4 linked regions of the Homo sapiens genome follow. The protein of the gene in region 1 interacts with the protein of each later gene in a pairwise test. Each region holds a gene or a part of one and is shown on either strand. Other genes may lie near its edges. The genes, in order: PRDM14, CARD10, WDR25 and HSPB7.

Region 1 (7,023 bases):
GAAGTGAAGACCTACGGAGACAATTCTGTGATGTGGGAGGTAAATCTGTTTCTGGTGGGTCTGCTGCTGAAAATGGGGCGGGAGACTAGTCCGGGGAAATCTTGGCCTTTGCCCTTTTGGGAGAGTCCTGGTCAGAGAGAGAGGACATCCAGGGCAGATATCTGTGGTTTGTGTTGCCTGTAAAAGGAAGGAACGGCCAGTGTTTGCTCCATGAGGATAGCACCTCTGCATGAATTCTGTGTTTTGTGGGTGCCTTAAGTCATTTTAGTCTGGAAGATTAGCAATGGAATATACATTTAAAGAATCAATATGTTGTATTATATTTATAGACAAAACTAAATGCTTTAGATATTATAGAGTGCTGAAACTATGCTAAAGAGAATAAAAACAAGTTTTAAAATTCAATATTATTCACCTATAAAATTAGTCAAGGATTAAAAAAAAAATAACCAGATACTCTTCAAGATCTAGTGATGATATATTAGGGATATGCTAGTGGGACTGCAGTTTATTACCTGCAGGAGAAAATTTGTCAGAATGTATCAGATACCTTAAAATGTTCAAAGTCCCTTGACCCTGAATTTCTACTTCTAGGAATATAGTACAGGAAAATAATCTGAAATTGAGGCTATGTGGAATATGTTAATCCTAGGGTTGTTTATAATAACAAAATGTTGGAGACAGCGAAATTGCCAGCAGCAGAGAAAGAAGTAATCTTTCTTTGTTTTTTTTTTTTTGTTTTTTTTTTCTTGAGACGGAGTTTTTGTCTGTTACCCAGGTTGGAGTGCAGTGGCGTGATCTCAGCTCACTGTGACCTCCACCTCCTGGGTTCAAGCAATTCTCTTGCCTCAGTCTTCCGAGTAGCTAGGATTACAGGCATGTGCCACCATGCCCGGCTAATTTTTGTATTTTTAGTAGAGAGGGGTTTCACCATGTTGGCCAGGCTGGTCTCGAACTCCTGACCTCATGATCCGCCTGCTTTGGCCTCCCAAAGTGCGGGGATTACAGGTGTGAGCCACCAGGCCCGGCCTTGAAAGAAATAATCTATAGCTCCATTAATATGCATGAAACCTAACTGGGAGTAAAATATAAAACTATTCAGTTGTGTTTAAGTGGTGGAATTAAATAAAACCTTTTTGTTTCACTTACCTCTGCTTATGAAATTAACATGTGCTCACTATAGGAATTTGGGAAGCAAGAAAGTGATAAAAGTAAGAATCTTTTAGAATATGTCACATTAGGCAGGCTCAGTGGCTTACACCTGTAATTCTAGCACTTTAGGAGGCCAAGGTGGGAGGATCACTTGAACCCAGGAGTTTGAGGCCAGCCTAGGAAAGAGTGAGGCCCTGTCTCTACAAAAAATTTTTTTAAAAAAATTTGCCAGGCGTGATGGTGCATGCCTTTAGTTCCAGCTACTCAGGGGGCTAAGGTGGGAGGATCATTTGAGCCCAGGAATTCGAGGCTACTGTGACCTGTGATTGAGCCACTGCACTCCAGTCTGGGCAACAGAGTGAGACTCTGTCTCTGAAAAAAACAAACAAACCCAATATGTGACATTACCTAGAGAGGTGTCCTTAAACTAACAAATCTATGTTGGCATAAGTAAATTTATAAACTACTTGTAATGACATAAAAATCAGAATGATAGAAGTGTATTTGGTGGACTCAAGTGTGATATTTAGGTTACAAGTATTAAAAAATTTATTTTATAGATTAGACCAAAAAAGAAGTACAATACAAACTTCATGTCTTATTTCATTTAGATCTTTGAAGATGGTCATTTGAGCCACTTTATAGATGGAAAAGGAGGTACGGGGAACTGGATGTCCTATGTCAACTGTGCCCGCTTCCCCAAGGAGCAGAACCTAGTTGCTGTGCAGTGTCAAGGGCATATATTTTATGAGAGCTGCAAAGAGATCCATCAGAACCAAGAGCTCCTTGTGTGGTATGGAGACTGCTATGAGAAATTTCTGGATATTCCTGTGAGCCTTCAGGTCACAGAGCCGGGGAAGCAGCCATCTGGGCCCTCTGAAGGTGAGTGCACACCCTCGCCTTGCCCAATGAGGGCATCCCAGTAGAAGGACTGGGCTCTTTTCCACAAACCCTCCATGCACAGCTCCTCCCTCCTAAAGGCTAATGCAGAGGACTAACCGAGAGTGTCTCTAACCAGGGGGGAATTACCCAGGTGAAGGAAAGCATCCTCAATTTCCCAAAGCTGCGGAAGCTACTCCTATTTATAAAGATATATACTCCTATTTATAAAGACTTGTTCTTCTTCCCTACCTTCCACCCCAAGAGTAAAAGAAAACGTACTAAATGGATGTAACTTCTACCATAGGTGAGCCAGTTTCTGATTCATCTCTGCCCAGGCTAATGTAGCTGAAGTCTAATCACTAGAGCAGTGTTTTTCAAATGGTGGGTTGCAGAGTTGCATGTCTTAGTGGGGTGGGAAATCAATTTAGTGGTCAAGACCCACATTAAAAAAAAAAAAAAGTATAGAGTAGAATAGAAAATATTGATGGGAATCCCTTAAGAGTAAGGATTGTTTTGTGAAATTTCTATTTCACATGGGTATATGTGGGTATGGTGGGTGTCAAGCATAAAATACATTGCCTACTATGGGTCTCAGGCAAGTTTGAGAAATACTGAGCTGGACTCTCACTCTCAAACTTTAATGTGGGAATGAATACCCAGGGATCTTCATGATGCTGGTTCTCATTCAGGGTAGGGGCCCAGGATTTGGTATTTTTATCAACTTGCAGGGAGTGCTGCTGGTCCTGGTCCCTGGTCCACATTCCAGTAGCAAGGGGCGAGGGAACCACCAGCCCACTCTAGGGGTGAGACTTTGGAATTTGCATGTTAAATAAGCTCTCCAAGTGATTTCTATATACACTGAAGTTTAGGAACTACTAATCTAGTAGGTGGGACAAGATAAATGTAAATTCCTGTAAATAAGAGAGAAGGCAGGCCGGATACTGTGGCTCACACCTGTAATCTCAGCACTTTTGGAGGCGGAGATGGGCGGATCACTTGAGGTCAGGACTTCAAGACTAGCCTGGCCAACATGGTAAAACCTCATCTCAGGTCGGGCACAGTGGCTCACGCCTCTAATCCCAGCACTTTGGGATGCCGAAATGGGCAGATCACCAGGTCAGGAGATCAAGACCATCCTGGCTAACGTGGTGAAAACCCGTCTCTACTAAAAATACAAAAAATTAGCGGGGCGTAGTGGCACACACCTGTAGTTCCAGCTACTCAGGAGGCTGAGGCAGGAGAATCATTTGAACCCAGGAGACAGAGGTTGCAATATGCCAAGACCGCACCACTGCACTCCAGCCTGGGCAACAGAGTAAGACTCCGTCTCCAAAAAAAAAAAAAGAGAGAGAGAGAAGGCAAATTATTATGATGTAATAAATGTGTAAGGAGCAGGTTTAAAAAAAAAATGGCCCAGGCGTGGTGGCCCACGCCTGTAATCCCAGCACTTTGGGAGGTGAGGCGGGCGGATCACGAGGTCAGGAGATCATAGCCATCCTGGCTAACACGGTGAAACCTCTTCTCTACTAAAAATACAAAAAAATTAGCCGGGCGTGGTGGCGGGCCCCTGTAGTCCCAGCTACTTGGGAGGCTGAGGCAGGAGAATGGCGTGAACCCAGCAGGGGGAGCTTGCAGTGAGCTGAGATTGCGCCACTGCACACCAGCCTGGGCGACAGAGCGAGATTCCGTTTCAAAAAAAAAAAAAAAAAAAGTAAATTGCATCTGCATGCCTGTTTTCCTGCTAGGCTGAGATGCTTCAGGGCAGGAAATAACCCTAAACACTTTAGTATCTCGTGCTTCTGGATCCCAGTGCGTACTGACTGAGAGGAAGACATTAGAACTAAGCTAGAAAAAGCTGCTTAGGGATGAGATGAAATAAGGCACGTGTAAGAGGGAGAGAGGGAAGGCAATCAGGCTCAGGGAACAGTGAAGCAGAAGGCAAGGAAATGTCCAGAAATTAGGGGGTAAATAATAAGCAGTCATTATTTATCTAATGATAAATAATGAGCAGTCAGCCGTCATTATTTATCTAATGATAAATAATGGTCCCAATGATGAGGGGCTGTCAGGATTGTTTTGGTGAACTATCTTCCTACTCCCCCAGGTATCTTATGTCCATGCTGGGTTCCCCCCGCCACTGAACCATCATAAGCCCTCATTCTGTTGCTTGTTCTGATCGCCTCTGATATCTGCATACAGGTTGAGTATCCTTTTTCTGAAATGCCTGGGACCAGAAGTGTTTTGGTGGGTGGTGTGGGTGTGGGAATGTAGGTGAAGATAGGAATGGAGGCAAAAATGGTTGGGATTCTCTATGATCTGTGGAGCTCTAAGTTGTCTCCTACTTAGCACCAAACCAAGACCTGTTGGTCACTTCCTGAAATGTACCAACTCCTTTCGAAATAAAAGTCAACAGGCTGGGCGTGGTGGCTCACACCTGTAACCCCAACACTTTGGGAGGCCAAGGTGGTTGGGTCACCTGAGGTCAGGAGTTCACGACCAGCCTGGCCAACATGGTGAAACTCCGTCTCTACTAAAATACAAAAAATTAGCTGGGTGTGGTGGTGCATGCCTGTAATCCCAGCTACTCAGGAGGCTGAGACAGGAGAATCGCTTGAACCCAGGAGCAGAGGTTGCAGTGAGCTGAGATGGCGCCACTGCACTCCAGCCTGGGTGACAGAGTGAGACTCCATCTCAAAAAGAAAAATGAAAGAAAGAAAAGTGAACAATGGATTTGAGAAAAGTATCTGCTTAGTAACTGGCAAGATGGTTATTATCCTTTTGAGAAATCATTATTATTTTTTGAGATAGGGTCTCACTCTGTCACCCAGACTGGAGTACAGTAGTGTAATCTAGGCTCACTGCAACCTCTGCCTCCAGGGTTCAGGCATTTCTCCTGCCTCAGCCTCCCGAGTAGCTGGGATTACAGGCATGCACCACCACACCCAGCTAATTTTTGTATTTTTAGTAGAGATGGGGTTTCGCCATTTTGGCCAGGCTGGTCTTGAACTCCTGGACTCAAGTGATCCACCCACCTTGGCCTCCCTAAATTCTGGGATAACAGGCATGAGACACCATGGCCGGCCATTTTTGAGAAATTTTTTCACCGTATGTATCAAATTATTACAATGTTTGTAACTTTGATGTCTCAGTAATACTCTTCTGGAAATCTATTATCGAGAAATAGTCCAAAAGGAAAAAGCTATGCTTATGAAAATTTTTAACTGTGGCACCACTCTTGTGAGTGAAAAATCACAAACAACCTAAATGTTCAGTAGTATAATAATTAAGTAAATGATGATACAGGCTCAGCAGCTCCAATCAAGAAATCCCAAATCCAAAATGCTCTAAAATCTGAAACTGAGCACTGACATATTGCCAAAAGTGGGAATTTCCACACACCAGTACTTGACACAAACTTTGTTTCATGCACAAAATTATTTAAAATATTGTGTAAAATTACCTTCAGGTGGGCCAGGCACGGTGGCTCATGCCTGTAATCCCAGCGCTTTGGGAGGCCGAGGCAGGCAGATCACCTGAGATCAGGAGTTTGAGAACAGCATGACAAACATGGTGGAACCCCGTCTCTACTAAAAATACAAACAAATTAGCTGGGCATGGTGGCAGATGCCTGTAATCTCAGCTACTCAGGAGGCTGGAGCCGGATAATCGCTTGAAACCGGGGGCGGAGGTTGCAGACCGAGCAAGATTCCGTCTCAAAAAAAAAAAAATTACCTTCAGGCTATGTGTATAAAGTATGTATAAAACAAAACATAAATGGACTTTATATTTAGACTTTGGTTCCATCCCCAAGATACCTCATTATGTATATGAAATATTCCAAAGTTCGAAAAAAACCTGAAATCCAAAACACTTCTGGTCCCAAGCATTTCAGAAAAAGGATACTCAACCTATTTGTTATTAACATGGAATAGTATGCCGATATCAGAGGCAATCAGAGCAAGCAACAGAATGAGGGCTTATGATGGTTAAGTGCAGGGGATACCCAGCATGCAGATAAGATACTTGTGTTCCAGTTCTGAACCAAGTGATACCTGATGCTTACAGCATTATTATGAGGACATATATTTTGGACAATGGAGGGAAACTTGTAAACAACTTAATTTGTTGGGAATAATTATAAATGAATGTTAATTTGTTAATCTGTTAATATGAATGGTTTGGATGTGATAAAAAGGAAAGAAAAATTAAAATTCCATTGCATTCTCAAATGAGTTTTTTTCCCCAAAGGCTTTTTGGTGGGGATTGGTGGTAGGTGGGAGCCTTCCTCTTTAAGGTCTTGAGTGGTGAGGGAAGGGTCTAGACTCTATGTGGGCGGGTTATTTGAATATGCAAGCATTCCCCTCTTGTGAGGGAGAGAGGGAATTTGGGTGTGTGTTTTGGGGTGTGGAGGTGTGAAGAGCTAGGGGGAGGGAGGATAGGGAACAAGATAAAATTAGGAAGGATAGGGAACAAGATGAAATTAGGTTTCATTTCTACCTAAGTGGTTGTTCTTAAGCGAACTCAGTATTGAAACTTTATTCTGAATTTTGGTGTGCTTTAGTGCTTAGGTTTGTAAAATTGCTGACCCTCTCTTCCCTTCCCACCCCAGGAAGCAGGAAGGCCAGGTATTTCTGACCAATAAAAATTCTACCTCTGTGCCAAAAAAGTGTCCCAGCACGGGGATTCTGAGAGTATTAGCACCTCAATGAAAGTGATAGACAGAGCAGGGCGATGGATCAGCTTGGGGCTGGCAGTTGCCTTCCTGGTTATTTACTTAATGAATAGTTTATTTCCTTAGCCACCTGTTAAACGTGCCTGGGATGTAGTTGTCAACTAACAAAGCCCCTGATGGACAGCTTCCCTGCTGTCCTGATGCTGAGAAGATTTCTATCTGCAGACTCTTGCATAGACTCACTCTTGGCTGCTCTTCCTCCCTGGGGTCAAACAATGAGATCTCTGTGGTGCATTCATAGTCAAAGCCACTTTATC
Region 2 (7,023 bases), on another chromosome or scaffold:
CGTCCCTGTGACTTGGGCTGGTCCCTTCACTTCTCTGGGCCTCCATTTCCTCAGTAGCTAAAGGGAGATGATGACCCTTTTTGCATGGAGGTCTTTTGAGGGCTCTGCTCGCAGAAGCAAAGCACCCAGCTCTGCCAGGCATGTAGCAGGTGCTTAGTAATAGTTGTCACTTACAAGCTGTCCTCGTCCCAATGTCCTGCCTGTCAGTCCCTTGGCTCTGAGTCCCTGGGACTGAGCCACCCAGCAAAGTTTCATGCTGTGGGTGGGCTTGGGTCACCTCAGGAGCCCCTGTGACCGGGCCAGCCACAGGTCCATAACAGGAGTCACAAAGCCCATTAGTGCAGAGTGCACTGTAGGCGACGTGCTGTTAGTGTGGCCGGTGCGTGGCCGCTGTTCACACCTGCCAGTGTATCTAAGGGAGGGGTGGGGCAGAGCGGGGGCTGCACGGCCATTGTGGTCTTGGAACTCAGCTGTGAGGAGAGGGCAGGTAGGGAGAGCATCCGGTGACTGTGGAGGAGGAGCGAGGGGGAAGGGCGAAAGTCAAGGCTTCCTGAGTCAGGCTGGGAAAGTGTGGACTTTGGCTTGTACACTCTGGGAAATGTGGGAGGGTTTAGTTATTAACTGCAAGGCCAGCTGCTGGCTGTTTTACAACATGCTCTTTGTCCAGGGAGTAGGCATAATGACGATTATCTCTGCTCCATAGAGGAGGTAACTGGGGCTCAGAGAGGTTAAGCAACTTGCCCAGGGTCCCACAGTTGGGAAGTACCAGGTCTGGGTTCATAGTGACCTGATCAGATTTGGGTTTTGGAAAGGGCATAGGAAACATGGACTGTCAGCGCTGGAATGTGGAGGTGTTGGGTGCAGAGGGATGGGTCACGCAGCAGATGGGTACAGCATAGGACCAGGGCCTCTGGCCTCCGGAGCGGCTTGGTCAGCCAGTGTCCAGGCCCTGCCCCCACCTGGCCCCCGGCAGTGGGCTCAGCGAGACATTGTTTTTGCCTGTGCAGGACGTGCTTCTCGGGGAAGGGGTGGAGGCGCCTCCCTTCCTGCTCGCCTCGGCCCTTCCTCCCTTCCTCCAGTTTGGGCTGCAGCAGGGGTCCTGGCTGTTGTCCAGGGGGCGCCAGGATGCAGCCAGGGAGCAGGAGCCTCCGTCCCAGCCCCGCCCAGGCCCCACGATCACATGGGGCCACTTCTGCTGCCCATGCTGTTCCTGGGGAGGAGAGAGGTTCCTGGGGAAGAACACAGGCTGGGGAAGGTGCAGAGGTGGTGGACAGAGAGAGAGAGAGAAAGAGAGAGAGAGAGGCAGACAGGCGGAGAGGAGAGGGAGAGGGAGATGAGGGCCCGGACAGGTCCCAGGTCGGGGCAACTTGTGTGTCTCCTGGGATTGTGTTATGGCGAGGTGGGAAGAGCTGGCTTTGGTGTCAGCACTTGCTACTGTGGGACCTTGGGCATGTCTCTGAATTTCCCAGTGCCTCAGTTTCCTGCTCTGTAAAATGGGCTCACATAGTGCCTGTCCCTTAGGGTCACTATGGGGGTTTGAGTATCCCTTCTAGAATGCTTAGCACACTCACGGTGGATGTCAGCATATGCTCGCGGTTAGTTATGATTATTGTCGCCATTGTTGTTTAATCCTCAGAGCAGCTCTGCAAGGCTGGAATTTTAACCTCGTTACACAGACCAGGACACTGAAGTACAGAGACAGTTAGAAATTGGTCCCAAGTCACAGGCCCCTCGGAGCTGGTTGGAGATTCCGATGTGCCTCCCCACTGTCTCAGCTGTTGGAGATCTCACATCCGTATTGTGTGCCCACTTTGTACTGGGCACCATGTTGGGCATTTTCTCTCCTCTTTCCCATTTCCTGCCCATCTCTTGCCCTCAGCCTCTCTGCCCTGCCCTTCTCAGCTCCTGGAGCCTGGGTGCCGGGAGGGGATGGTGGATAGTGGGGGGCTGGGGCAGACCGGGGGTTGGGCTGACAGATAGTCAGGTGGGGGACAGCAAGGGAGAACTCATGGGGCAAGTGAGGTGCTGGGTGAGAGAGGCAGAGCATGGAGAGCACTGGAGGGTTTCGGGGTGCCGTCTCCCCAGCATAGCCTCACCACTGCCCAGCTCGCTCACGTGGCCCCAGGGGATCTCTGGCACCTTCTGTCCTTGCAAAGAGAGGGTTCCCATAAGTCATTGCCTGGCTCCACGGCCCACTAGCTGTGCCCATTCTTGGCAAGTTAACTTTCCTGTGCCTCAGTTTCCCTTATCTCAACCATCGGGTTGTCAGGAGGATTGACTGAGGTGATCTGTGTGGCATGCTTCAGTCTCAGCATCAGGTCCCTGACCTGGTACCAAGCAGGCACGCAGACTACTCAGATATCTTCCCACGGGGCCCTGGGGGACATTCATTGAGGCCATGTGGCCTGTCACTGCTCAGAGCTGGCAGAGCTGGCAGACTTGCCCCGTTCCTGTCTGCCTGTGACCTGACCTGACTGGGGAGGGGGCTGGGAGCTGGTAGCTAAGGACACTGTGCTTCCTAGTACCACACAGGCAGCCAGCTGGTCAGCCAGTCCCAGGAGCGGGGAGCAGGCAGCCCCTCTCCCTGCTGTGTCCTTTCTCTACCCCTCCTGCTTGTCTGCTGAGGCGGGGGGCTGGGAGGAACCCTATCTGGACCCTGCTCTGGGCAAGCCCCTGTGGGCTCTGCAGACTCCGAGGAGTGCTGGGAGCAGGTATTCCTGGTCTGTGGAGGCTCAGAGAAGTCACTGGTCCTTTGAGGAGGTTGGCAAGGGCGTCCTGGAGGAGGGGGCGCCTGAGCTGGGTCTTCAGGGAGCTGCAGGAGTTGTCAAGAAGAGCCTGAAAAACCTGAGTTGAAAGCTGAGGTCAGCCTTGATGCTTGCATTGCAGAGGGGAGAGGTGTGGAGGAGGGAGCGAGTAGAGGTGGGTGGGGTGGGTAGGGTTGGTGGAAGAGCCTGGATGCCAGCTGCTTACTGGGCTCTGGTCTGGAGAGGCCATGATGGTCAGTTGTCTGTGGGTTTGAAACAGGTGGGGAAACTGAGGCAAGCGAGAGGTGATTTGTTGTGAATCACACCTGATGCCAGTAAATGTCTAGTTTTGACAGAGCACTTAGTGTCTCCTGGGCCCTGTTCTGAGAGCTGCCCATGTCTAAACTCAGCGAGTAGCCAGGGAGGTGGGTGGAGCTGAGGCTCAAGCGGCTGAGCAGCTGGGCCGTTTGACCCCAGAGTTCCTGCTGGCACCCTGCGTGCTGTGCTTCTCGGACCATCTGACCACAACCCACAGTGAGAGAAACCCGGTACACATGCCTGGAACAAAAAGGTCATGAGATAATAATTGGATTTACCTGGGGTGGCGGGAGCGGGGTGGGGGATAGCATTGTACTTTCTATTCCATAGCATTATCCAGCTGTCCCAGTCGCAACCCAGTGAATGTTACCAGCCACTAAGGGCCAGGCCTGCAGTTTGGAGGCCCCAGAGTCCTCTGGTTTCCACCTCTCCCTGCATTATCTTTTATTCATGTGCCCCCCCCCCCCACCCCCCAGCACCCACAGAGGGCAAGGGGTGTCATTGTCAGCTTCGTGTTATGCATGTGGTAACTGACGCTCAGCAGCCGGCTCATTTGCCCAGGCTAGGGTGCAGTTTGCCCTGGGGTTTGGAGCGGACCGTGTGCTCCAGCCACAAAGCCAGGGCCAGCATAGCCAGGCCAGGTCTCAGGCCTGCCCCCTTTCCATGCCACCTCGATGCAGCCAGGACATGCGGCACTGAATGATGCCTCCCATGCCTGCATCTGTCCAGCCCCTCGGCCTGGCTCTGTGTCTTACCTGAGAGGGCGGGGCTGTTCCCCAGCAGTGCCGATTGGGTGGGAGGTCCTTGCAGCCGCGCCCTCCCCAGGCTGGCAGCAGGGGGCAGTGCAGCTGTGTCTGGGCTGCAGCTGCTGGGGTGGATGGAGATGCTTCGCCCCGCTGCCTCTCCAGCCAGCACACCTGCTGACCTTGGTCTCCCCACCTCCTCCAGGCCAAGGTGTCTGGCAGGGGACTTGGGGTCCATTTGTCTCTGAGCCTGGCCACAAGGCCTCACCTTTTCTCATCCAGGGACAGGCAGAACCCTACCATGATGGGGATTTTGGTGACGTCTTAATTGTCAGTGGTCCTCCTGCCCATGGGAGGAAAACCAGACGCCTCTGTTCCACGCCCTCCAAAGGGTGGCTCCAGCTTGCCTTTCCTGGGAGCTGCTTCCCAGGATGTAAAATAAGAATTAGGGCAAGGAGCTCAGCATGGTGTCTGGCACATGGAAAGCACCCAGGAAGTGTTCGCTGCTATTGTTATTATTAAATTCTTCCACGCATCCTGTGTTCTGTCCTCCACACCTTTGCTCTGATATATTCCTTCAGCCTGGAACTCTGTTTCCTCCATCTGTCACCAAAGTGCATCTATTCTTCACCAGCGTGTAGCCTAGGTACTTCTTCCGTGGGAAGCCTCTCTCTGCTTCCACGGCTGGTTGTAACCACCTTTGGATCTGTGCCACGTGCTAATGGTGACCTCCCTCCTCAGACTGTGAGCATAACAAGCTTTTTTTTTTTTTTTTGAGACAGAGTTTCAGTCTTGTTGCCCAGGCTGGAGTGCAGTGGCTCGATCTCGGCTCACTGCAACCTCTGCCTCCTGGGTTCAAGCAATTCTCCTCCCAAGTAGCTGGAATTACAGGCGCCCACCACCACGCCCGGCTAATTTTTTTGTATTTTTAGTAGAGATGGGGTTTCACTATGTTGGCCAGGCTGGTCTCGAACTCCTGACCTCATGATCCGCCTGCCTCGGCCTCCCAAAGTGCTGGGATTACAGGCGTGAGCCACCGTGCTTGGCTATATAACAAGCTTTTATTAGTCATCTGCTATGTGCCAGACACTGGGTTTGGTGCCAGGGCTACAGAGCGGAACAGTATAGAAGTTTGGTCCTGAAGGTGTTCGTTCTGATGGAGGAAACGAAAGGGCCGTGGCAAGGCAAAGTTGGAGTGCTCTGTGGCACGCAGGCTCCACTGCACCGTGTGCCCAGGTCCAGGGGAGAGGCTGCTTGTGACTTGAGATTTGAAGGATGATCAGCATTTCCCAGGTGGAGAAGGCAAGGAAGAGGGCACAGAAGATGGAGAGGCCTGGGGGTGGGAGTCATGGCATACTTGGGAAATGAAATCACTGTGGTTTTCCAAGAATGCTGAACTGAATCCAAGTACTGATTGGACTCCAATTCTCATCTCCTTTCTCCCTTCTCAGGTCTCTGGCTATTCGGGTGTCTGGCCGGAGCCCCCCAGGGGGCCCAGAGCCGCAGGACAAGGGACCAGATGGACTGTCGTTTTATGGGGACAGATGGTCTGGGGCTGTGGTGCGCAGGGTGCTGTCTGGGCCTGGGTCCGCCAGGATGGAACCAAGAGAGGTGAGGCCCTGCCTCCTGAGCTGGGGGGGTAGGGTCAGTGCTTTTGCCCAGGCTGGACATCCCTTAATTTGGTGGATCAAGATCACCGGGCAGAGCTTCTGGGGATTGGTCAAAGCCGAAGCGGGCTCAGTGATTAGCTGTGGTTGCCTGCTCAGCCAGGCTTAATTGAAGTCTGATTGGGCAGGGACTGGGAGGTGGAGCCAACTGACAGCACGTTACATTCCTGCGCTTCAAGTCGAGAAAGACCTGGATGAGCTGGGCGGGTTGGGGAGTCCTGTGGATGGGGGCGTCCTGTGGATGGGGACGGGTCTGACTGGGCTGGGCATGGCAGTTTCTGAGGGGGCGCTATCTGAACTGTGAGGCATGAAACACCCCCACACCTGGTCTTCCTCCAGCCCCTGGGCTGCTCTACTCTCAGAGGCTCACTTCTTTCCCTCCCTGCCTGGGTTTTCTCCCAGCAAAGGGTGGAAGCTGCTGGTCTGGAGGGGGCGTGCCTGGAAGCCGAGGCCCAGCAGAGAACCTTGCTCTGGAATCAGGGGTCCACACTCCCCTCCCTGATGGACTCGAAGGGTAAGTCTGGCTTGGGAGTCGGAGCTGTTGGCCCCAGAGGGGTCCTCTAACCCGTGGTGCATGGGGTGGGGAGGGACCAAGGACCTGAGAAGGGACCAGCCTTGCCCCAATTGCCCTTCTCCTGGCTCCCCGCCTGCTGATGCCTCCTTCTGTCTGTCCTTGTGCCCTTTCTCTATGCCTCCCTCTGTAAGCAGCTTACAGTGAAAGGAGCACTACATTAGGAGTCCAGAGACCTGGGTTTGAGTCCTGGCTCTGTTTCTAGAAGGCACTGGCCTTGGGCAAGTCCCTGCCCCCTCTGGACCTAAGTCATTCTAAGAAGGTGAAGGTCGGGTCCTGGGAACTCAGGCCTCGAGAGGGCCATGTCTTTGGCCCCACCAAGGCCGATCCTGGACCTCACCATCCTCCTCTTGTCCTCCTTGCTGCCCCCTGCCCCATCCATGCCCAGCCTGCCAGTCCTTCCACGAGGCCCTAGAAGCCTGGGCAAAGGGACCAGGTGCCGAGCCCTTCTACATTCGTGCCAACCTCACCTTGCCTGAGAGGGCAGATCCCCATGCCCTTTGCGTGAAAGCCCAAGAGATCCTTCGACTGGTGGACTCGGCATACAAGCGGAGGCAGGAATGGTTCTGCACCCGGGTTGACCCCCTCACTCTGCGGGACCTGGACCGGGGCACCGTGCCCAATTATCAGAGGTGACGCAGAGCCAGGAGCTGGGGATGGGGTCCCCCTGGGAGCCAGGGCTCAGATGGGGGTGCTCTCCCTCCACCTGCATTCCCTCACCATCCTCTGGGACAGGGCGGGGGGTTCGAGGAGAAATGAGGAGCTTTCCTTCTTTCTACACACATGATGTCACTCCCTCCCACAGAGCCCAGCAGCTCCTAGAAGTTCAGGAGAAATGCCTGCCCTCCAGCCGGCACCGAGGCCCCCGCAGTAATGTGAGCACGGCTGGGCAGGTAGTGGGTGGGGGGCCCCAAGGGTGGGGTCCAAAAGGGAGCTAGCAGGCTCTGTTCTCTGGCAACCTAGGAAGACACTCCCTCCCT
Region 3 (7,023 bases), on another chromosome or scaffold:
GGAGCAAAGTATGAAACTTGAGACAGTTATAAAAATATATTTGGGGAAAAGTTTTTAATAAGGTAGAAAAATTCCCCTTACACGTTACAGAAGATTGGGCAGCAGAGGAAGAATTCAAAACTGCACATACTATGCAATAAGCCCAATTATGTAAACAGATAGGAATGTAGGGCCCCCGACCAGGGAGGCCCCTCATGTTAATGAGGCACTGACTTGGGGTTGGGAGTTATCAATGATTTCTGTTTCTCCTTCATACTTCATATTTCCTGCATCATTAAAGTTTTTCACAATAAGCATCTATTACATTCATGGTCAAAAATTAAAAGGTTTTTTTTCAAAGTATTTTAAGGAAGCTTGTTACTGAAAGAATTTCTAGAGCAAATTATTCTGTAAAGCAAATAAACAACATCTAATTCATATATTTTCTTTAAAAACCTTCTGTGTTTCAGAACTGCAGGTTTTCATACAGGTACAGAAGGTCCCTGGTGGGTCTTCTGTCACCCACCCAAAGGTCTTATTCCTTTGGGACTCCCTCTCAGTGCCTGGCAGAGGGTTCTGTACATGGGAGCATTCAATAACGGCTGGTTGTGTTTTTGGTTAACGCAGGCCACGTACATGTTTTCCTTCAAAAAAAGGCATCAAAGTCTGAATTTCTACCTTTACGTGCAGTGGGTGTTCAAACACGTTAAGCCAAAAGAGTTCACTGGGAGATGAAAAGAGTATATAAAAGGGTATCCGTGCTGGGATCACAGCTATGAAAAAAACAAGCACGTTCACAGACAAGGGGAGGAAGGGATCGTCAGGAAAGAGCAGCGGTGCAGAATTATGAGTCATTGTTTTATTTTACTTAATTTCTCTAGCTGTAAATTTTTCAAAACTAATAAAAGCATATTTTACAGCTCACAGAACATTTAGAACATATTAAAATAAGTATCTTTCCACTGTAATGTGTCCAGTTGAAATGTATGAATTCCGAAGCTACGTTTTAAGGATATGAAGGAACTGGCACTCCATGTTCTTTAGATTAATAAGTTGGACTGTGTTGTTTTTCTCCTGATCAGAAAGAAATCATTTTTCAGTAAATGTTACCTTGAATCAAGGATTCTTCCACATTCTAGAAGCTTGGATGAGCTGCTTATATTAAGTCTTACTGTGCACCCTAGTGGCGAATATGATTTATCCACTCAAAAGACAATCCCTTCCCAAAGGCTTGCGATAAAATCCAAAAAATTTGTTTTAATTTTTATCGATCACTTAACATGTACACAATTTTGTGCCAGATGCTGGGGAATATAAAAATGGGTTCTGGCTCAGGAAGCTTAAAGTCTAGTAGGTGAAGCTGATATGCTTCCATGGCTACTTACGTAAAATAAGACATGAGCACAAGTCAAGGAAAGGAGGAAATTCTTGGGGAAAAGCAGGAACTCGAGCACACACTAAGTGCCTGCTATGTGCCAGGCATTGCACTTGGTGATTCACAACTAATATCGTTTACTTTTCACAAAAACCCAGCGAGGCATGTTTAATTCTCTCCACTTTATAGATACTCAAATGAAGGCTCAGAAGTGAGGTAACTTGCCAGAGACCACGCAACCAAGGGGCTGGCCGTAGAGGAAGGACCCAAGCAGGTCTTGTCACCCAGCCCCCAAGCTCTTCCCTCCTTCCTGATCCAGCAGGGGCCCAGAAGACACTGGCAGATTTTAACCAAAAGGCAGGGGGAAAGCACCCTGGGAAGGGTGTACTGCTGCACCCGCCTCTTTGAGCTCATTCCATGCTGCACCCACCATTTCCTCTCCTCCAGGGACTGGGCTGCAGCCAGCCAGGACTCCTGCCTGTGCCCGAGGCCCTATCCCCACTCCAGACCCACCACCCACACCCACACACTGCCTTCCCCAGATCACCAGGTCCCCAAGATCTGCCATGCTGCCCCACCTCTGACACCAAGGAGGGAAAAGAACACCATGTGCCTCCCAGCCAGGCCACGCACAAACCTGGTGGCCCAGCAAGCCTGAGGCCTCAGCCGGGACTTCTGGCCACAGCTCCTGCCTGGCTCCCCGCCGGTTCCCAATCTGTCTTCCCATCCTGGCTCCTCCAGCCCCTGCCATACACTCTTCACACTGAAAAGTTGTTCAAAGTCAATTTGCCCAAAACCAATTTGCCAAATAACCCCATCACTGAAAACTGACAAATATCTTAAAACAGAGAGGGCCCTGGCCCACCATTTGTATCTATGGCTTATAAAAGCCCTAATGTTCACGACACCACAGTAAAAAAAGAGGGTCAGGAGATGCCAACCCTAGCAGCCATGCTGACCCTGGCCCAACCTCATGACAGCAAATGTGCTCTGCCCTGGGAAGGAACCCAGGGTGCACAGTGCAGTGGGTGGGGCTCCCCAGAAGCTGCCTGGCAGCCCAAGGGGCCCATGCCAGTGTCATCACCTGCAGCACACACAGTCTCCTCGGGACAGGCGGGCACAGCTGCGGCGCCTGGCCCCACCCAGGGCAGCCCCACAGACCCGGACCCAGGTCTCTGAATCGCCCAGGAGCAGGGCATTCCTACCACAGTCCCTCAGTCTGAGCCACCCTCACTGCCATTCCAAGCTGGGCCCACTGCGCCCTCTTCTGGTCATGAGGTGTCACAGTTAGTTGGCTGCTCACAGTTTCCCCTCCATGGGGGCAGAAACGTCTCTCCCCCCACGTCCCCAGTGGCACCGTGCCTGGCACATTTGTCTACTCCACAAGGCCAGAAATCAATGCCTCTACTCAGGTGCTCTCTGCTCAAAAACTACCATGGGGATGCTTCTGTTTAGGAAATCTAAATTTCCCAGGCAAAAGTGACCCAAGCTGCCACTCTGCCAGCAGGGCCCAGGGAGCACTTCACGCCACCAGGCGAAGGCCAGTCCCACAGGGCCCCAGGTCTGCCCCTCACCATCAGGAGAGAGAACTCCAGAGGTGAGCGGGCAGGTAAAAGAAGGCCTCAACAGGAAGGTGAGCACAGGGAGGACAAGGGCCACCACTTGAACTCCAGGGCCAGTCAGACACTGCCCAGGCCCACCAGCAACCCTCCAGATGGGCTTCCCATCCTCCAGCCCTTGCAGCGCAGACTTGGGAAGGAGAGCAGAGAAGCCCCGGGGCCACAGGATCAATCCCAGCATGCTGTGATCCACGCCAGGGATGCCAGAAGCCTCCGCGCACACTTCACAGCCCCCGGAATGGCAGGAAAAGCACCAAAGACCTAAGTGGAAAATCCTGGAACTCCAGGCTGAAGAGAGAATATGACGTTCTCTCCCACAGGACTCTGAGTCTTGCTAGAAAAGAGCACAGACAAGCCACTTCAGGACTCCAGTTCGCCACTTAAAAATGCCACCCATCAATTCAGCTCATTTCAAAGACATCTCTATACTTGGAGCTTCCTTTCTTCACTTAAGAAAATGTTTCCGAGGGAGAAAAGCTCAAAATGTAATTTGCAAGAGAAAAGATGTAGGAAAGTTGGTTCCAGAACTCTGAGGAAACAAGGGCAAGGGAACCACCATTTACTGAGCGCCTATGAGGTACCTGGCTCTGTGCAAGGCACTTTTTCAGCATTTTTCTCACATGAGCACATGACCCAGGTATGATTTTGCCCTTTTACAAATGAGACACTAGACTCCACAGGAAGGCAGCCGGCCAGTGGTCGACCAGCTAGCTACTCTGCAGCAAAGCTGGATGTGAAGCCAGGTCCCTTGAAGTTATTTCCTTTCCAAGAGCTTTCTGTTCAGCTAGCATTTAGTTGGCACCCGCTACATATCAGGTGCTTTGCTAGCTGCGAGGAGAGAGAGGAGGGATGCAGTGCACAGCTCGAAGGGCTGGAGACAGGTCCCAGGTGGGCACAACGACCTATCACACTGTACCTCCATACTGGGGGACTACATTACTATCACTTCAGTAGCCTGTAAAATAAATAAGACAATGCAAAAAAGAGTTTCCATGTAAAACCAGAAGTCCCCAGAAGGGCACGTGCAACCTTCCCTGACCTTGCTTCCCCAGCCTCAAGTCCCTCACCCACACATGCTTGAAGCCAGCTCCCAGGCCCTCATGCTTGGAGCCAACACATACACAGGGCTCCTGCAGCCAAGCACGCCCTTCTGCCCCCATCCCCAAGCGAACCTTCCCCTTCCTCAGGAGGCCTTCACTGAGCCCTGCCGGGCTGGGCTGGTAACCCTCCCGTTGGGCTCCCAGAGCACCTGTGTGTCCTACTGGGGGCCGTCCTCACAGCTCAGGGTTGAGTCTGTGTACTTGTCCACGGCTCCCGCCTCACTGTGCAAGCCCTGACACCAGGGGCTGGGTCTACCTACCTCTCCCAACAGCCCTTGAAACCAGCACAGCACCAGGCACAGAGCTGGCATGGCTCAATGCTCCACAGGGTCACCGAGGATGTCCCCAGTCCCCAGGGCTTGGTCCTGGGCCTGCTTTTCTTCTCCCACTAATCACTCTCACCTCCTCCCTCACGGCCTCCGAGAGGGATAAGAAACAGTATCCTCTGGTAACCTGAGCAAGGCAGCATCAGGGAAGGGTTGGGGCAGAAGGAACCCACAACCCGGAGCTGACCACAGATGACCCTTTCTGGAATGCAACAAAGGGAATTACAGAAATCTGCACACAAAAAAAAGTTCAGCCTGTAACCTCCCTCCACTTCACTATTATTCCAGCAGTGTATTCCTAAGAGCATCTGAAAGCAGAAGTTTTCATTCAAGTCTTACCTTGAAAGTTTTATCCATAGAAGTGGAGAGAAGCATGTGGCTCTTAGAAAGGACTGGACACCACTGAATGGTGTTGACAGGGCCCCTGTGGCCTCTCAGGTGGAAAAGCACTTTCCGGGGAACTGTGGTTTCTTTATAATGGCTATTCAAATATGGCTGAATAAACTCAGACACTCCCGGGCCCACGTAGAGAGGGGCTGGGGCACGCCCTGCAGGGGGCCCCTGTGGCTCCACGTCTTTACCCTTGCCTGTCTCCGTGCTTAATGCCTGCCGCTGTCTTAGTCTTCTGGGAGTATAGGGTACCACACAGTCCTCACATTTTTTCTTCTGAAAAGAGCTGCCATTTTTACCTACGGTTTCAGACTCACTTTGAGCATGGAAAGATGACTTGGGAAAGTTCCTGGAGAGTTTTACTTGCTTAAAGCGGGCAGCTGCCAGGGGCATGTGGCTGGCTGGAACATGGCTCGTCCACAGAGAAGAACAAGAAGGCTCTTTGATGGGGAAGGTGACTTGAGGCTCCTTCCCGGGCCACTGTAGCCTCTGGCTGGGGCAAGATCCCCAATCGCTTCTCCCAAGCTGAGCCAATGGAAGGCGATAGCCCCCTGGGTCTTCACAGGAGCCATGCTTTGTGGGCTGTGCCCCTGCTTTGGGCACATCCAGTGTACCAGATGCAAAATCCTGCCCAGGTGGTCTGGCCACACCAGAAGTGTCTTTCTGCTGGCCGGTAGCATTAAAACTTCCTGCATGCTCTGTCTCAGCCTCCGAGTCCGAATCATCATACGCTACCAATGAAGCCATTAAAGACAGAGTTCTTGCTGTCATTCAAAGCCAAACCACCTAAGATCAAACAAGGTCAACCGTCAGAAAATGTGCATGGAAGAATATGTATGTAGTTATAAGAAACCATGTCACCTAGGAAATCCAATAACTCAACACTCATAAGAATAAACACAGGCCAGGCGTGGTGGCTCACGCCTGTAATCCCAGCACTTCAGGAGGCCGAGGTGGGTGGATAACCTGAGATCAGGAGTTCGAGACCAGCCTGGCCAACATGGTGAAACCCCGTCTCTACTAAAAATACAAAAAGTAGCGAGGCAGGGTGGCAGGCACCTGTAGTCCCAGCTACTCGGGAGGCTGAGGCAGGAGATCGCTTGAACCTGGGAGGCGGAGGTTGCAGTGAGCAGAAATTGTGCCACTGCACTCCAGCCTGGTCAACAAGAGCGAGACTCTGACTCAAAAAAAAAAAAGAAAGAAAAAGAATAAATACAAAAACAAAAAAGGCTTTTCTACATATCAGGCCCAATTAGTTAGAAGATAAAATTTTTGAAATTGAAACTATGGAATAGCTGGGGGTAAATCTGTAAAAAATAAGCAAGACCTACATGAAGACTTATAGTAAGTCTGGGTGCAGTGGTTCACACCTGTAATCCCAGCATTCTGGGAGGCTGAGGTGGGCGGATCACTTGAGGTGAGGAGTTCGAGACCAGCCTGGCCAACATAGTGACACCCCATCTCAAGTAAAAATACAAAAATTAGCCAGGCCTGGTGGCACACAACTGTAATCCCAGCTACTTGGGAGGCTGAGGCAGGAGAATCTCTTGAACCCAGGAGGTGGAGGTTGCAATGACCTGAGATTGCACCACTGCACTCCAGCCTGGGTGCCAGAGGGAGACTCCATCTCAAAAAGAGAAAAGAAAAGAAAAAAGCGCTGGGTGCAGTGGTTCATGCCTGTAATCCCAGCACTTTGGGAGGCCAAGGCGGGGGGAATCACAAGGTCAGGAGCTCAAGAGCAGCCTGGCCAACATAGTGAAACCCCATCTCTACTAAAAATACAAAAATTAGCCAGGCGTGGTGGCACGCACCTGTAGTCCCAGCTACTCGGGAGGCTGAAGCAGGAGAATCACTTGAACCCAGGAGGCGGAAGTTGCAGTGAACCGAGATTGTGCCACTGCACTCCAGACTGGGTGACAGAGTGAGACTCTGTCTCAAAAAAGTAAAATTAAAAAAAAAAAAGGAAAGAAAACTAAAACTTTTATTGAAGGACATAAAAGAAGACCTAGGCTGGGCGTGATGGCTCACACCTGAAATCCCAGCACTTTGGGAGGCCAAGGTTGGTGGATCACCTGAGGTCAGGAGTTCAAGACTAGTCTGACCAATATGGCAAAGCCCCGTCTCTACTAAAAATACAAAAATTAGCCGGACATGGTGGCAGGCGCCTGTAGTCCCAGCTACTTGAGAGGCTGAGACAGAAGAATTGCTTGAACCCGGGAGGTGGAGGTTGCAGT
Region 4 (7,491 bases), on another chromosome or scaffold:
CTGGTAGAGGGGAAGTTTACCGTCACGGCTGTCTCCTCTTGGCCTTGCTGAGCCCTCGGGCAATTAGTTCCACTTAGATAGGCACCCTTGCCTGTGACCTTCCCTCTGTCCCTCCCACTCCCCTTGGCCAAGAGGGTTCCAGGTCCCTGGTCCCCTTGCCCTGCAGAGACTTCATAGATCAGAGGGTTTGTCTGTCTGTCTGTCCTGCAGAGCTTGCCCATATGTCCTGCTGGTCCCATTCCCCTGACCCACAGTGGGTTCTTTAGATCTTCCTTCCCTGACCCCAGCCCCTGTACTCTGGATTAAGTGACGGAGGCCAAATCTGAAATCTGGGCATCATGTGTCAGGCCAGGGAGTCCCTGGCCTGCCCTGGATAGAGTGGAGGGCCCTAGTTTGGGAGGATGGTCCACCTGGGGTCTGGGGTGCGTGGGGGCTAGAACCTGGGCTGAGATGTCCTGGAGCTGTTGTAATGGGGTTAGCGAGGCTTTGCTGGCAGGCGTGGGGCGGGGGGACAGGGAAAGGGAAGGGAGAGGCACTCAGATTTTGATCTCCGTCCGGAAGGTCTGCTGGACGTGTTCTGTATGCGGGTGACGCCGTGCCCGGATAGTGAGGCTGCCGTCCTCCCGCAGAGCCGAGGTCACCGACGTCGGGTCCACGTCCTCCGGCAGCTGGCACTTGTGAGCGAAGGTGTTCATGACAGTGCCGTCAGCCGCCAGCTGGGGAAGGGGTGACCCGTCAGGCAGGCTGCCCCGACCCCTGTCCTGCTTGTGACAAGCCAGAGCCCTCTTCTCCCCATTCTAACCCCAGCCAGACCCCACATGCCGAGGGGCTCTGCCCTCAGGTGCCGAGGGGCTGCCCAGGGTGGTGATGGCCACAGGCCAAAGGCTCTGCAGGGACAGCGCAGGGGTGCTTCGCAGAGCTCCAGTAGCTCCAAGGAACAGGCCAGGGACATGGGGAAGAGGTGGGGCTTGGAGAGAGAGGAGGCTCCGTGGCAGTGGCTCCGAATCTGGGGCTCCTGGGGAACGTGGAGGTGACAGAGGAGAGCCGTGCCTTCCTGGATCCCCGGGCACATTGGGCATCTGCCCGCCAGGGCTGAGCGCCGGCCCCTCCCCCGCAACTCAGCCAGCACATAGTGTCCAGGGGAGTTTGGGGCGGCTGAGTCACTGTTGGGGGTGGCAGGGCTGGCACATGCTGCCTGTGGGTTTTGGTGCCCCCAGTCCATGGCATCCCTGGCAGGGACGCCCAGAAATCCACCCTTGAATGTGGAGGGGAAGAAGCCAGTCCTTGGGGGCTTAGGAGGAGGCTTGGGTCAGGTCCTCTCCTCTCTCCTGGCAGCCGTGGCTGTCCCTGGGCAACGCCCCTGTTCAGGCCTGGCCATACCCTCTCCAGGGTGGAGGCCCCAGTGCCTCCTAGAAGTTCGGACTCAGACACGCTAGAGACCCAGTGACCCTGAGACCTGTGGGCGGGCGCTGTGTGTGGTTTGGAGTGTGTGTGACCCGAAACTGCAGGGCCCCTGCCCAGCCTCGGGCCTAATTTAGGGGTCCCAAGATGGGGGATGGGTCTCCAGCTGTGGGAGGGAAGAGGGCTTGAGGTGGGTCACATGGAGAAACCCCTCCCCCCACTGCCCAGGTGAGTTCCCCACCTACCCGCATCCGCCCCCCTATAGCTACCAGAGGAGCTGTCCTCACTCTGCCATCACCATCTCACACCTGTCATCTCCCACCCTCAAGCCCCACCCCCTCAGGCTCCCTCTGCCCACATCCCTCCATCCCTCTCCCATTCCTCGGAGGCTCCCTCAGCTGCTCAGGCCCTGGAAGAAAGGATCTGGGAACCTCGGTGCAAAGAGAGGCAGTGAGGGGGCCCCATGGCCATGGGTTGCAGGGACAAGGCCTTCAGTTAGCCCTGGGGGAGTTTGGGTGGGGAAGGGACACTGGCCAGGGTCTGGGGTCCCAGGATGGTAAGGGGGAGTAGGAGACATTGGAGGCAGGAGCAGAATTTGGGATGCGGTGAGTAGGGGGTGGGGGGCTCACCTTCTCAGCCCGCACCTCGATGTGGTTGTTGGAGGTGGTGACAATGATGTCTTCAGGTGAGAAGTCTCTCACGTCCACCGCAAACTCATAGGCGTCTCCTAGGGTCTTGATGTTGCCTGCCCCACCGGGGCGGGCTGTGGGATGGGCTGCTGTGAGCGAGGCATGGAGCAGGCCTTGCATGCAGATCCGGGGGTTCTGGCTCCTTCTCTTGGGGCAAGGGGCGGCTCCCCCAGGCCCTACCTCCCCCCTAGCTGTTTCTCCCTAAGCTCCTCCTCATTCCTACAGCCCACCTTTTCTGGGGTGGGGGTGGGGCCTCACCCAGCACAGTGTGTGTGTATATGAGGCTAGGTCTGTAACAACCCCACCCCAGGCCTGGAGCCTGGGGGCTGCCCCCCACCGCTCACCCATCCAGCCCTCCAGGGCTCCAGCTGGGATTGGCTGTGGTTACAGAGCATGGGTGGCCATGGAACCATGTCCAACCCCCAGGGCCACAACTGTTCCTTAGAGGCCCACCTGTTTTCATGGCCACATCTGTCCCTGTGGCCACATCTGTCTTGGTGGCCACACATGGCTGCAGGCTGTGCAGCACCTGTTCCAGGCCGACCGGCAGCCACAGCGCCTTCGGTGGCGCCCTGGAGCAGACGTCCCCTCCCTGTGCACCTCCCCTCCCCTCAGGGCCCGGATCACTTGCCTGGGAAGGCCAGGGGCTCCGAGTGGGGCCGCATGAAGCTGCCAAAGTCATCGGAAAACATGCTCAGGGCCTTCTCCATGGGCGGGTCCTGGGCCGGGAGAGCACGGGAGGCCGAGGAGGAGGTGGAAGAGGAGGAGGAAGAGGAAGAGGAATGGAAACTTCTCTCCGCTCGGAAGGTGGAAGAGGTTCTGTGGCTCATCCACGGACGGCGCCGGGCCCTGCCCAGGCGGGCGAGGGCTGGACAGGAGAGGGTGTGGGCGCAGGCCTCTGGGCGAGCGTGCCAGGCTCCGACTGCGGCCGCTTTATAAGGCCGACTGTCCCTGGGCTTGGGGCCAGCCCCTTGTCTACTAGCTAAATTTAGGCCTCTCCATGGCCCAGAGGGGGCTGGAAATCTTCTCCCGTGCGCCGGCCCTGCTGACAGCCCGACACGCAGGCCGAGAGGGCTGAGCTCACAGCCTGACATTCCAGGCTGATCACAGCAGCCCCAGGGGCCTCCTCACCACTGCACAGGGCTGGATCCTGTCTCCTTGCCACTCGGACCTCGGTGCCTGCCCCAGAACCTTGCAAGTTTGGGGTTTATTGTGTGTTTTGTTTCCCCCGTCAGCCTGGGGGCTCCTGAGGACTGTGCCTCCCCTCCAGACTCTGGTTCTCCTCCACGGCTGTACCTCCTCCATCAGTGTGCAGGCTCCTTGGGGACAGGGTAGGTGGAAGCACCACCGCTCTGTGACGTCAGGAGCTCCTTCCCTCAAGGCAGACAACCTTCACAGCCCATCTCTAAGGAAAGGTTGAGCCCTGCCAGGGGGTGTAAAATGTGCAGCTGTCCCCTGCCAGCCCCCATGGGGACCTGGATTCTGTGCCTGCACTCCCTCTGACTCTCAGAACATTCAGCAGCCCCAAGAGGACAAAGTTGGCAGCTTTCTCCTTAAAGGTCTAGAAGGTTGTGTTCCCGGCAACTGTCTGCTCCATCTCTGTGTCAGAGGTGATGCCTGCGAGCGCCTTAGGTGGGATTTCAGTCAGAGGTAAAAGAGAATTCCGGAAGACAATTATTCTAGCCCTGAGTTCTAGAATGCCTTCTGGGCATGGGCTCCTGGCTGCAAGCTGTCCAGCACGGCCCCGTTTGATCCCCACACAGCTGGGAGGGTGGAGGGGCTCTTCCCATGTTACGGACGGGGAAGCGAAGCCTCTTGGAAAGGGCGGGGCTCGCAGTTGCGTAAGTGGCAGAGCTGGGATTCGAACCTAGATGTGTTGGACCCAAAGCCCTTCAGAGGCCGAGGTGGTTTGAACATGTGCCTATGGAGACAGGCTGGCCCGGAAGAGCCAGAGAAGCCCCTCCCTACCCACCTGCTTGCTCAGCAAAGCTGGGACTGACCTTGCCCTGGGCCAGGGTGGAGGCCATTCTGAGAGGCGGCCAGGCCCTCTGCTCTGCCCAGGTTGCAGTTAAGGGCCTCTGCTGTCCTCTCCAAATCCGTCCCTTCCGTCCCAGATCAGCTCCAATGCCTCCTCCCCCAGGGAGGCCTCTCTGACTGCTCCTGCTCACATGGGCCCACACCCAGTCCAGATGCCCCCAGCACTGACTGTCTTTGTCCTCCCACAGCACCTGGCAGTGTGACATAGTCTTCCTGTGTGCTGTGACTCTCTGCTGTGTCCCTTCTTCCCTATCCAACTGGCAGTTCCCACGGGGGCGAGGGTTCACCTGTCTCCCCATTAGATTGAAGGTTCTTGAAGACGGGCAGTTTCTCTTTTGTCTGAGCCCCCTACAACCCAGTCTGGAGCTTCATCCTGGAGAGCTCCTTCTACAGGGGTATTAGCGGTGCTGGTGGTATGTGGAGTGGAAGCAGAGCAGGGCACAGGGCACAGCGGCGGGCCAGGCTGTTGCCTGGAGCAACAGGGCCTGTTGCCTCTGGCAGAGTTTCCTGCCCGTGTCGGGGCCTGTGACACCCAGCCTGGCTGAGGGGTTTCTAGGGCAGCTGGGAAGCCACCAGCACTGAGGTGAGATGGAGAGAGGGTGGGGCGGGGTGGGGGGCCCAGAGCCTGCCGCTCGCCAGGGAAACAGGAGCCGGTGGCTAAATGCAGACACACTGTCATGGTGCTGAGGGCCTGAGTCACTGCCCCTGGATGTCAGATCCCGTTACCCACCCCCGCCCACCATTCCTCCTCCCCTTTTTCCCCCTTCCCGAGGCATCACCCACACAAATACTGGATCCTCTGGCTTCACTGACCCAGAGGGACCTCAAAAGGTCATCAAGGACATTCCCCTGCCTCTACCTTCAGATCACAGAGACAGAAGGAGCTACAAAGATGATGCAGTCCTTTGAATCCCAGTCACCCAGGAGAGCTTTTCACAAACACAGACCCTTTCCTTGGACCCCAGGATTTTGATTTGGGATCTGGGGAAGGGACCTCACATCTCTTCCCATCAGCTCCCCACACAGCCAGCTCATAGGCCAGTGATGAAGCCCTCATCACTCAGTAGGTATTCATTGAAACCTTGCTATAAATAGGTGCTGGGCACTGTTCTAGGCTCTGAAGGACTCAGAGATGAATAAGGCAGAGACAGGCCCCTGCTTCCAGGCTCACCTCATCATACAGAAGAGGAAACTGAGGCTCTAGTTGATGAAAGAGTTAGGGTCAGCAGAGCTGTGCTGGCTTCAAACCGGTCATCCTGCTGAGCCACCCTGGCTGCCCTCTTCTCAGCCTCCTGGTGCACACAGGGCTGGGGGGTGAGGGTAGATGTGGACGTGCAGTGCTGGCTGTGGGACAGTAGCCAGCAGCTGCCCCAGACCAGACACTGGAAATCGGGATGTTGACAGGGCAGCCAGTTCTGGTGCTGTGCAGAGTCAACAGGTCGGGGTGGCCAAGGTGAAGGTGGGCTCGAGTCCATACAGAGCGGCAACTCCCATCCCACCTCCCACAACACACATCTTTGATTTTGATTTGACTTGCCTGGCATCTAGGGGCAAAGGGTGGCCCAGGGTCCCAGATTTTAACAATCATCCAAGGGCTATCATAAGCTTCAGAGGGTGGCTTTGTCTGGGTGGGAGTGGAGGCAATTGTCCCCAACCTCTTGCCCAAAAGTGGCATCAGACACAACTCTTCTGTTCTGTGCCCAAACCATTGCCCTGGTTCAGCCTCAGGAGCTGGAGGAGCTTTGGGCAGGGGAAGAGCTGCACAGTGTGGGGCTGGGTTCAGCCTCTGCTGTGTGACCTTGGATGAGTGACTCACCTCTCTGACCATCTACAAAATGGCGAGGCTCTCCCCATTCACAGGGTGTGGGAAGGAGGACTTGAGCTGCAGATGTGACGCTCCTGACACGTCGCAGGCACACGGCAGGTGCTTGTTCCTCGCCATGTCCCCTCACACCTGTGCTGCCATCCTCTGTTGGGGTGGGACAAACTCTGTGGAATTACCCAGAAGTCCCCACCAGAGCCGCTGGCCCTTGGACGTGTGCTTTGAGAAGCATTTCCTGAGCCTGGAGGGTCTGGACACAGGATCAAGTCCGAGTTCCTGACCCCAATTCACTGCCTTGCCCCAGGTGTCGGCCTCCTCGCCAGCCCTGGACAAGATGGGTCATCAGGATGGGACCGTGTGGCACAGCCTGCGGGCTTTGGAGCCAGGCAAACCTGGGCTGGGAATCCTGGCTCTGCCTCGGCCTCCGTGATCTTAGACAGGCAGCCCCAGCTCCCTGAGACACCATTTCTCTACAACGGGATCACGCTGCCTGCCTCGTGGGATTTCCGTGGGCACTCAGGGTAATTAATCTGGGAGAAGGCTGACTCTCTACCTGACACACAGGGAGGCTGTGGTCATGCTGGCCCCACTCACCATTGCCCCCCTGCCTTCTCCTTCCCTTCCCAGCCTCCTCCCCTCTCCCTCTGTGCTTTTTCAAACCTTCCATGTCCAGCTCTGAGACCCCTGGACCCTGAGTCTCAGCCTTGGCAGATGACCCCTCTCTGTCCTGCTGTGTGCATGAGCTCCCCCTTCCCAGCCCTCGTCCAGCAGCACCCAGGAGCCTGAGTACAGCTGGGCACCACCCTCTGTGCAGCTGTGATGGGTGGGGAGGCTCCTGCTCCCCTTCTCTCTTGGCAGTTCTGCCCTGCACAGCTCTGGCCTCCACAGTTCTGGTTGGTTTGTCAAGGACGTTTTTAATCTCCATGGTAAACCCCGGCCGGCGGGGAAGGGGGGTGGCAGGGAGAGAGTGATGATTGGTAGAGCATATACCTGTCCAGGTGCACTGGAGCTGGGAGCAAAGGAGGCTCTGTGAGAGGAGGGCCAGTTCAGCCGCAGCAGGAGGACTGACAGGTGAGGGGTCTCTGGGCGTGGACTGGAGTATGAACCTGGAAGGGCCAGGCAGGCAGGGCATAGGGGATGGTAGGGGCAGTAGCCAGCACCTCACTTTGGCTTTGCAGAGGCCTTCTGGTCCTGGGGTTTTCCTGCCTCTGTGACCTGAGCTGTCGGGGAGAAAGGAGGGTGCTCCGAGATTGGCAGGGAGAGTCGGAGCCATCCATGGGACTCTGCAGTGAGAGAGTCACAGCCCTGGGCAGAGACTGCTCCCAGTAGTGGAAGCACCAAGCGACCCAGGAGGGTGGGAGCGGTGTCCACAGTCTGCTGCTGGACACAGGGGGACACCTAGGAATCCCACCCTCATCCCACAAAATGACACACACAGGCACACACCCTCAGTGACGGAACCTCAGGGATGAGGGCACACACAGACCTAGTGTGATAACACACACACACACGCACAATCCTTCCTCTTCATTTGGGTGGGGA

The links.
Region 2: the proteins of PRDM14 (region 1) and CARD10 interact in binary tests that used the Homo sapiens proteins (3 or more experiments, as listed by UniProt).
Region 3: the proteins of PRDM14 (region 1) and WDR25 interact in binary tests that used the Homo sapiens proteins (3 or more experiments, as listed by UniProt).
Region 4: the proteins of PRDM14 (region 1) and HSPB7 interact in binary tests that used the Homo sapiens proteins (3 or more experiments, as listed by UniProt).

Annotation. Positions count from the first base shown.
Region 1 is NC_000008.11:70,061,246-70,068,268, reverse strand, and holds part of PRDM14 (PR domain zinc finger protein 14), read left to right. Parts: coding exon 1-39; intron 40-1,763; coding exon 1,764-2,034; intron 2,035-7,023. UniProt on the Homo sapiens protein: Transcription factor that has both positive and negative roles on transcription. Required for the maintenance of embryonic stem cell identity and the reacquisition of pluripotency in somatic cells.
Region 2 is NC_000022.11:37,495,412-37,502,434, reverse strand, and holds part of CARD10 (caspase recruitment domain-containing protein 10), read left to right. Parts: intron 1-5,256; coding exon 5,257-5,416; intron 5,417-5,874; coding exon 5,875-5,986; intron 5,987-6,431; coding exon 6,432-6,675; intron 6,676-6,848; coding exon 6,849-6,918; intron 6,919-7,023. UniProt on the Homo sapiens protein: Scaffold protein that plays an important role in mediating the activation of NF-kappa-B via BCL10 or EGFR.
Region 3 is NC_000014.9:100,379,462-100,386,484, reverse strand, and holds part of WDR25 (WD repeat-containing protein 25), read right to left. Parts: intron 5,576-7,023; 5' UTR 5,561-5,575; coding exon 4,739-5,560; intron 1-4,738.
Region 4 is NC_000001.11:16,015,044-16,022,534, forward strand, and holds the start of HSPB7 (heat shock protein beta-7), read right to left. Parts: upstream 3,001-7,491; 5' UTR 2,921-3,000; coding exon 2,722-2,920; intron 2,180-2,721; coding exon of another isoform or gene 2,165-2,179; coding exon 2,031-2,164; intron 717-2,030; coding exon 537-716; 3' UTR 1-536.